Linked DNA regions of Homo sapiens. The protein of the gene in region 2 purifies or fractionates together with the protein of the main gene of each other region. This does not show direct contact. Each region holds a gene or a part of one and is shown on either strand. Other genes may lie near its edges.

The links. Proteins that work in one complex are often made in the same cells at the same time.
Region 1: the proteins of AMFR (region 2) and UBAC2 purify together in Homo sapiens (affinity purification with western blotting; 4 studies listed by BioGRID and IntAct, with this or other methods). This does not show direct contact.

What each region holds. Positions count from the first base shown.
Region 1 is NC_000013.11:99,199,544-99,203,653, reverse strand, and holds the start of UBAC2 (ubiquitin-associated domain-containing protein 2 isoform 1 precursor), read right to left. Parts: upstream 2,801-4,110; 5' UTR 2,746-2,800; coding exon 2,715-2,745; exon of another isoform or gene 2,243-2,714; coding exon of another isoform or gene 2,087-2,242; intron 1-2,086. UniProt on the Homo sapiens protein: Restricts trafficking of FAF2 from the endoplasmic reticulum to lipid droplets.
Region 2 is NC_000016.10:56,422,746-56,426,698, reverse strand, and holds the start of AMFR (E3 ubiquitin-protein ligase AMFR), read left to right. Parts: upstream 1-1,153; 5' UTR 1,154-1,371; coding exon 1,372-1,626; intron 1,627-1,709; exon of another isoform or gene 1,710-1,788; intron 1,789-1,964; exon of another isoform or gene 1,965-3,029; intron 3,030-3,953. UniProt on the Homo sapiens protein: E3 ubiquitin-protein ligase that mediates the polyubiquitination of lysine and cysteine residues on target proteins, such as CD3D, CYP3A4, CFTR, INSIG1, SOAT2/ACAT2 and APOB for proteasomal degradation.

The DNA.
Region 1 (4,110 bases), on a different chromosome or scaffold from region 2:
GATGCTGGTCTCCTTGATCCTGCTTATTACTTTATCCTCTGTATATCAACAGTGTGTGGCTGATATGGGTACCCAACAGACACTTATTGAATGGATGAGAGAGAAAGGCAAGTTTAACACTAAAATACTATTATCTACTAACCACAAAACGTGGGAAACATGCAGGTGGTAGAAAATGGCAGGGATTTATCCCTGGAAAGGGACTGTTATTCACCACCCATGGGGGTAGGGCTAGGTACACGTGTCGTCCTTCTTTCAGATTCTTGCTCAGGATCAGAATTTTGATTTGCTAAAGGGTCCCTCAACTTATCTAAAGGAAATCATAGGCAGTGGCTCACGCCTGTAATCCCAGCACTTTTGGAGGCCGAGGCGGGAGGACCACTTGAGGTCAGGAGCTCAAGACCAGCCTGGTCAACATGGCAAAACCCCGTCTCTACTAAAAATACAAAAATAGCCAGGTGTGATGGTGGGCACCTGTAATCCCAGCTACTTGGGAGGCTGAGGCGGGAGAATCGCTTGAACTCGGGAGGCGGAGGTTGCAGTGAGCGGAGATCCACCACTGCACTCCAGCCTGGGCAACAGTGAGACTCCATCTCAATAAATAAATAAATAAATAAATAAATAAATAAAATAAAACAAAGGAAATCACTTCTCCCTCAGTGGGTAGCTTCTCCAGAGAAAAATGTTAAAGCTGACACACAGCCTTTTCTAATGACCAGTCCTGGAAAACTGTGCCTAAGCTCCGTCAGCACTGTAAGCACTGAGACCAGGACCTGTTCGTTGCTGCATTCCCAGCACCTAGCCCAGTTCATCGCCCAGAGGAGATGCCCAAAATGTTTGTAAAATGAGCATGTAAGACACAGCCTTCTGAGGAACGGCCATCCCAACAACTCTTACACTGCAGAAGCACTTAATTTTAGAAACAGGCCAAGACAGCTGCAGAGGGGCTCCAGACCTACGCCTCTCCCTGGGCAACAGTTTGGTTCCTAGAATTCAACACTCACCACCATGTGCCATAGATAACAAAATATTATCTTCCCCACAGTTGCCCTGTATCAAATTTGAATACACTTGGCCAATATAATCTCATGGCTAATACAGTACAGCAACCAATAAGATTTCTCTTGCCCTTTATTTTTTTATATGTACTTTGGCCAGCAAGGATAGATCAAAATGCTAAAGAACAATTGAAATTGAAGAATTCCACCATTAATTTCATAACCAGTAGTTCCTGGCTCACTGTGTGATCCCAGGAAAACCACATTGCCTTCTTGAACTGTCAGCTTCAGCTACAGTCCTAATGCTCTTTATCTAAAGGGTAGTTTGGGGAAGATTACTTAGTAGTTGTAACATACTCCGGGACCAATCCATGAAAGATGCCATAAATCAAATTAATTATGAAACAAAGGAAATCATAAATATTGAAACCACTTCAAAACCTGAGAAGTTGAGAAGTGAGGAAGATTTAAAATTATGCCTGTGGCGCTGATACTAACTCACTGTCAGACTATAAGACGAGACACACATTCTCAGAAGATTCATGACATTCCCAACAGATCTTTTTTTTTTTTTTTTTTTTTTGAGATGGAGTCTCGCTTTGTCGCCCAGGCCAAAGTGCAGTGGCGCAATCTCGGCTCGCTGCAAGCTCCGCCTCCCGGGTTCACGCCATTCTCCTGCCTCAGCCTCCCGAGTAGCTGGGAATACAGGCACCCGCCACCACGCCCAGCTAATTTTTTGTGTTTTTAGTAGAGAGACGGGGTTTCACCGTGTTAGCCAGGATGGTCTCGATCTCCTGACCTCGTGATCCGCCCACCTCGGCCTCCCAAAGTGCTGGGATTACAGGCGTGAGCCACCGCGCCCGGCCAACAGATCTTTAATATTTGGAAATGTCAGATGTTTCTGTCCTCCAGCAGCATTAACTTCACATGGAGTATGAACAGTGACAAGCAATTGCAAAATTAGAGCTGTTCTCCGTTGCTGTACCCGTGCCTAACTGTTAACACGCAGTCTACCTTACCGAAAGTCAATTCCACACACTCAGTGAGAAAAGCCGTTTAACTGGCTGTAAAAATACTCCGCCCCCTACCTGCTGACCACCGCTAACACGCCAGGAAAACAGCAACATCCAGCAGCACAGCTGCGCTCCCTCGCCACGACTTCCTAACTTCCCTCCACTTGAAAGCACTCTCATCAGTGTGTGTTTGTCTAAAAACTCTTCTTGGAGACTGAAGAAGAAACACATCCAAGTGAAACTGAGAGGTCAGCTTCTAAAGCGGAGGCTGAACTTTGCAAGTGGGGGCGGGGGGAGTTAGTTCGGTCCCCCAAGCCTAAAAGAATGGGGCATGGTAAGGGGGACGGCCCCTTCCTTCAGCGCGGCACACGCTCCGCAAAGGGCCTGGGGCCGGCCCACGAGAACACCAGGGCACCTGCCCACTTGCAGCGGCCCCAAGAGACTCCTGGGCAGAGCACCTGGGGATACCAGGTGGGGTCGGGGCGGGCGGCGGGGCTTTGTCCCCATTCGCCCCTCCAGGCCGAAATGGGGGCGGTTTCCGCTGACCCCCAAGACCGGGAACTAGCAGGGTTCGGACGCGGGTCTGGAGGGTCGGCCCCACCACCTCCGGCAAACCCGAGGGTCCCCGCTGCCCCAGCCTCCTCAAAGAGGTGCCTAGGGTGGCGTGTAGGGGGCAGCCAGGATGGCGGAGGCCGGTACTCACAGAGCCCACTGGAGCCGGTGCTGGTGAACATGGTCCCGCCGGGCTCGGAGCCCCAGAGGGCGCCGGGGGAGGGGAAGCTGAAGTGCGAGCCCCAGCGACCGCGCAGGCGCACTCTTGGCGGAGCGACGAATCCGGCGCCGCGAGGCCACTCGCCGCTGACGAACGGCGCACCCGGCGCATGCGCAGTCAGGGGCGTGCGCCCGCTGGGTCAGCGCCCTCCTTCCTGCCGGGGAAGGGAAGTGCGTCGGTAGGGGAGGGCTCACCTCTCCAGGTTGAAACGATGGCGGTCAGAACCGCCTGAGGTAAAAACGGGTGGCACTGGGGAAGCGGAGGCGTAGCTCCCGAGAGCCTCACACTTGTGCTCAGTGCCGCCTCACCCCTGGTGGATCCGCGATGGCCGCGGATTCCCCTGGATTGCCGGCGCTGGGCAGGAGCGCCACTTCTAATCTCTCCCGAGACTGGACGCCCGGCGCCTTCCACGCGCGTTGTGTCTTTCCGGGCGGTCCCTCGAAGCTGGCTACCCCGCGGGCTGTTGACTGCAGTGGGATCTGGTCACTCAGATGCGGATAGAGGGGTACGGGAGCCGGAGAGGTGGAACAGGTCCTTCCGGGTGCGGAGAGCTGGGCCGTCCAGCCGCCTCTTTGTTCCCGCGTGGGTCCCGCGCGGAATCCCCACCACCGGGGCCGACTGTCGTGGTCCCTGGAGTCAGCACCCTGCCCTCCCCGCCGTGGTGGCGGGTGGCTGGGGGGTCCCCGGCCCGGCGAGCCCGGCGGAGCGACCCTGCGCTTCTGCCCTGGCGAGCTTCCGGACTCAGGCCATTTAAATTTTTTTCCCCAGCAGAATGAAGTTACTCTTTGCCAAAGTCACGGTTTTTAAATGTGTGAGCCTGAAAACATATCATGCAGTCGTTTTAAAAAGTTTTTTTTTAAGTTGATCTCGTGAAAGTAGGGAGTAAAAGAGTGGTTATTCTTGTACAGAGGAGAGTTAGTGGGGAGGAAGATGGGGAGAGGTTGGTCAACAGACACAAAGTTATAGTTAGAAGGAATAAGTTTTGGTATTCTCTTGCACGTTTGGATGACTATACTCAACGATAATGTTAACTTCAAAATAGCTAGAAGAGAGGATTTTGAATATTCTCACCACAAAGAAATGACAAGTGTTTTGGTGATGGATGTGCTAATTACCCTGATTAGATGGTTGCACAATGTGTATATGTATGGAACCATCACACTGTACCCCAGAAATACATGCAATTATGTGAGAACGCATGTTATGGGGAAAATTGACCACACTACCCAGCTAAATGAAAGGGATAGGCTATGGAGTACTAAAAAAAAAAAAGCATTTTCAGTGCTCATAAGTGCCAGCCAGTGTGCTAAATCTGTGATTCGTAGAT
Region 2 (3,953 bases):
GACTGGTCTGGACAACATAGCAAGACGCTGTCTCTACCAAAAATTAAAAATTAGCCAGGTGTGGTGGCATACGCCTGTAATCCCAGCTACTGGAGAGACTGAAGCAGGAAGATTTCTTGAGTCCAGGAGATGGAGGATGCAGTGAGCATGCCACTGTACTCTAGCCTGGGCCACAGACCCTGTCTCTTAAAAGAAACCTGCACCCTTTATCACCCCCTACTCCCCTCTTCCTCCCATCCCTAAGCAATCATTAATCAACTTTCTGTGTCTGTATATGTACTTGCCTATTGTGGACATTTCATATCAATGGAATCACACAACACGTGGACCTTTGTGGCTGTCTTCTTTGACTTAGCACGTGTTTAAGGTTCGTTCCTATTGTAGCATGTATCAGTAGTTCATTTTTATGGCCGAATAGTACATTTTATGGATGTATCACATTTATCCACTCATCGCTTGACGGACATTAGCGTTGTTCCCATCTTTTGATTGTTAGAATGTAATCAACATTTGTGTACAAGTTTTGTGTGGAGGTATGTTTCCACTTTTCTTAGAGGAGTGGAATTACTGGGTCAAATGGTCACTCTTGTTTGACTTTAAGGAAAGGACAGGTTATTTTCCAAGACAGCTGCACCATTTGACATTCTCACTTCTGGGGTATGAGGGAACACATTTTTATTTCCCGCTAAATCAGGTTCATTTTTTAGTTTCTGCTGGAGGCTACTAGCAAACAGCAGAAACTTGAAAGACTGTTAATATTCTTTCTTCTGGGGTTTCGGGCACCAGGGAAGCTGCGCGGCCCCTAGGAGTGCTGGGGGTAACCTCTTCAGAGGGTTAATGGGGTGGGGGGGGGGCAAGTGGCCGACGGCCTGGTGGCCAGGGTGCCCCGCGCCCTGAGGCCCTGCCCGCCTGCCAGCGCCTGCGAGCCCGAGTGACCCCTGCGCCGCGGCCGGAGCAGGTGCCCTCTGTGTCTGCGGGCCCAGCCAAGCCGTGGTGCGGACGGCGGATGATGCTGGGTGCCCGCCCCCCGGCCTGAGGCCCGGGGCTACGCCCGCTAGGCGGCGGCGCGACCGCTGGGGGCGGGGGACGAAGGCCGCGCCCCTGCGCCCGTCCCGCCAGCGTCCCGCTGGGGGCGGCGGCCTGTCCCGAGCCCGCCCAGGCTCTTCCGCGCCGGCAGGGGCAGCAGCGGGAGCAGCGCGGGGCGGAGCGGCGCCAGCAGCCAGGAGCGGCCCGGCCCGGCCCGGCGCGGCGGCGGCGGCGGCAGCGGCAGCGGCAGCGACGCCAGAGCCCGTGGGCGCCGTTCGCGAGGCCGCCGCAGAGGCCCGGCCGCAGCGCAGGGAAGCCTGGGGGCCAGAGGTCGCCGCTGCCGCCATGCCGCTGCTCTTCCTCGAGCGCTTCCCCTGGCCCAGCCTCCGCACCTACACGGGCCTCAGCGGCCTGGCCCTGCTGGGCACCATCATCAGCGCCTACCGCGCGCTCAGCCAGCCCGAGGCCGGCCCCGGCGAGCCGGACCAGCTAACGGCCTCGCTGCAGCCTGAGCCGCCGGCGCCCGCCCGGCCGAGCGCCGGGGGACCCCGGGCCCGCGATGTGGCCCAGTACCTGCTCTCAGACAGCCTCTTCGTGTGGGTGAGCGAGGCGGCCGGGCCCGCGGGGCAGGGGCGGGGTCCGCTGCGTCACCCTTTATCCGCGGGGGCGTGGTGGGCCTAGGGGCCCCTCCGCCAGGGACCCCCGAGGGCGAGCGCCTGGGGGGCGCGGCCTTGCTCGCGGGAGCGCTGCTGAGGGAGAGTGGTGAGGCGCGGGGAGGGGGAGGGGGCCGCGGGCGGGAGGAACATCGCGTGGGGTTGCGAGGAGGAGGCCCCGAGGGGCAGGCCAGCGTTGAGGGCTCCGGGAAGGGGGTCGGGGAGGCGGCGGGTGATGGTCTGCGCTGGGGCGCGGACGGGGCCTGGGGCAGGGGAAGGGGTTAAGGGGCAGTGGGGAGGAACGGGCTGGGTTTTCTGAGGGACCCTCGGGAGAAACTAGAAGATCTCAGAGGGCAGGTTCAAGGGGAGGTCGGGATCTGGGAGTGCGTTATCCCGAGGGTTGGACGAAGTAGAGTGAAGTTGAAAGCTTTTCCCACTTGGTCAGGCATGGGATTGTTAGCGGATTTTCTTCCGACGAAGAGGAGAGGGCAGAGGGGAGAATTCAGACGTTGAGTATGGGGGAATTTTCGGCACTCAGGTGTCTTTGGACATTCCGGTTGGAGAGAGGCCGTCTCCCACAACTTTTTTGCCGCTTAGTATTCGATTGTCCCCTTTGGGAGCTGTGTAATGAAACAAACACCAAACTGTGCTTCCTTTTCTGCTGCCTTTACCTGATGTTCATGACAGTTTTCCTTTGATGTCTGAACGCAGCAAAACATTCACAGTGTCAAGAGGCAGCCCATCATTTTAACTGAATGTTTCTTATTTGAGGATCTATTCTAACACAGTTTCCAGGTTGTCTGCCCCTGCGAGATAAGCAGCATTGATAAGGCACACATGCTGGTTTCGTTCATTAGAACAGATAATTTCAGACTGATCAGATCAACGGTATTTTGGCTAGAGAATTTTGCTTTCATCTTGGCCTTGAATACTTATGTAAATCCCGCAGTGATCAGAAAAGTTTCTCCAGGATTTAAAGCCTCACTTGGATTTAATATGGCTTCTTGGATCTTGTCTCCTTGCATGTTCCCATTTGGGGTTGAAAGTGGGCTGTAAATGACTGAGAGATTAATATTCCAAGTTGATAGTATGATATGCAACTCATTTGTTATAATTAGTCCCACTGTGCTTCATCAGGAAGCGGTGGGATTTATGGACTCTGTGGGCTGTAGATTAAGTCTCCTGGTCCTTCTGATGGAGAGTTTAGTAGAAGGCAGTGAAGGGTGAAGTTCCTGTTTATCTACTGCTGTGTAAAGCTGAACTTTACAGTCCTAAAGAAGGGAGAAGCGAAAGAACTCAACTCACATCTCTTGCTTAATTTCAAATCTGTTTTTGCATTTGAGTTAGCAGGTAAACAAAGTGATATGGAGAGTGTTTTTGCCATGTTAAGATTATAATGTAGTCTTTGATATTTTTTAAGTCTAAGATATAAATAAGCCTTTGAGAAGGAACCCTTATTTTATTTATATAACAACACTGGTATTGTTTAATGGATTTCCCCCCGCAGGACTTTATTTTGATAAAAGCCATGTTCAGATTCTAAAGTTAATATCTCTTCAGAAAACATTACATAAAAGCTGTTGATTTTTCTGTGATGATGATTACTTTTTAGGAAATTTCCTTTTCTTCCAGCATTTTCAGTAGAGGTCTTACCTCTGGCAGGTTTATCACTTCTTACTCTCCGCTGATGATATTTTCATTTCTCAGTTGATCCTAGTGCTGTTTTTCTTCCATCTTTCCTCTGGGGTCTCCACGTGTTTACTTTGGCCTGCTTTGGTTTCTCAGACCCTCCATGTGCTCACTGTTTGTCTCATCACTCAGTGTATATGTAGTTTCTGCTTTAGCAGCTGAGTAGAAGTGACAATCTCAAAAGCCTTCCCCAGTGGTGGGACAGATTAAGATTGTTGAGTGAATACCCTATGTGGTGGTGCCTTTGTCAACTGGATCCTCCTTGCGCCCTCCCCTAGTTCTATTGAATTCAGATTCAACTTTTTCACGAACACTGCCTGCCAAGGCCAAGCAAGACAAAACAAAGACTGATCCTTCTGCCAGTGCAAGTCCTGCTAGATATTAACATATTGTAATTCCCAAAACTTATCTTTTTAGAGCACAGTTTAGAATAATATCGGTCTGATAGCATCACAGGAGGTTTTTCATGAACAAACACAATTTAAAACCTTTCGAAGGTGTTATTTTGGGCACTTTGGAGGGCATATCTGTGAACAACACTTTCCCCTACCCTCAGTAATATGGCAAAATTTTATAGGGGATAAT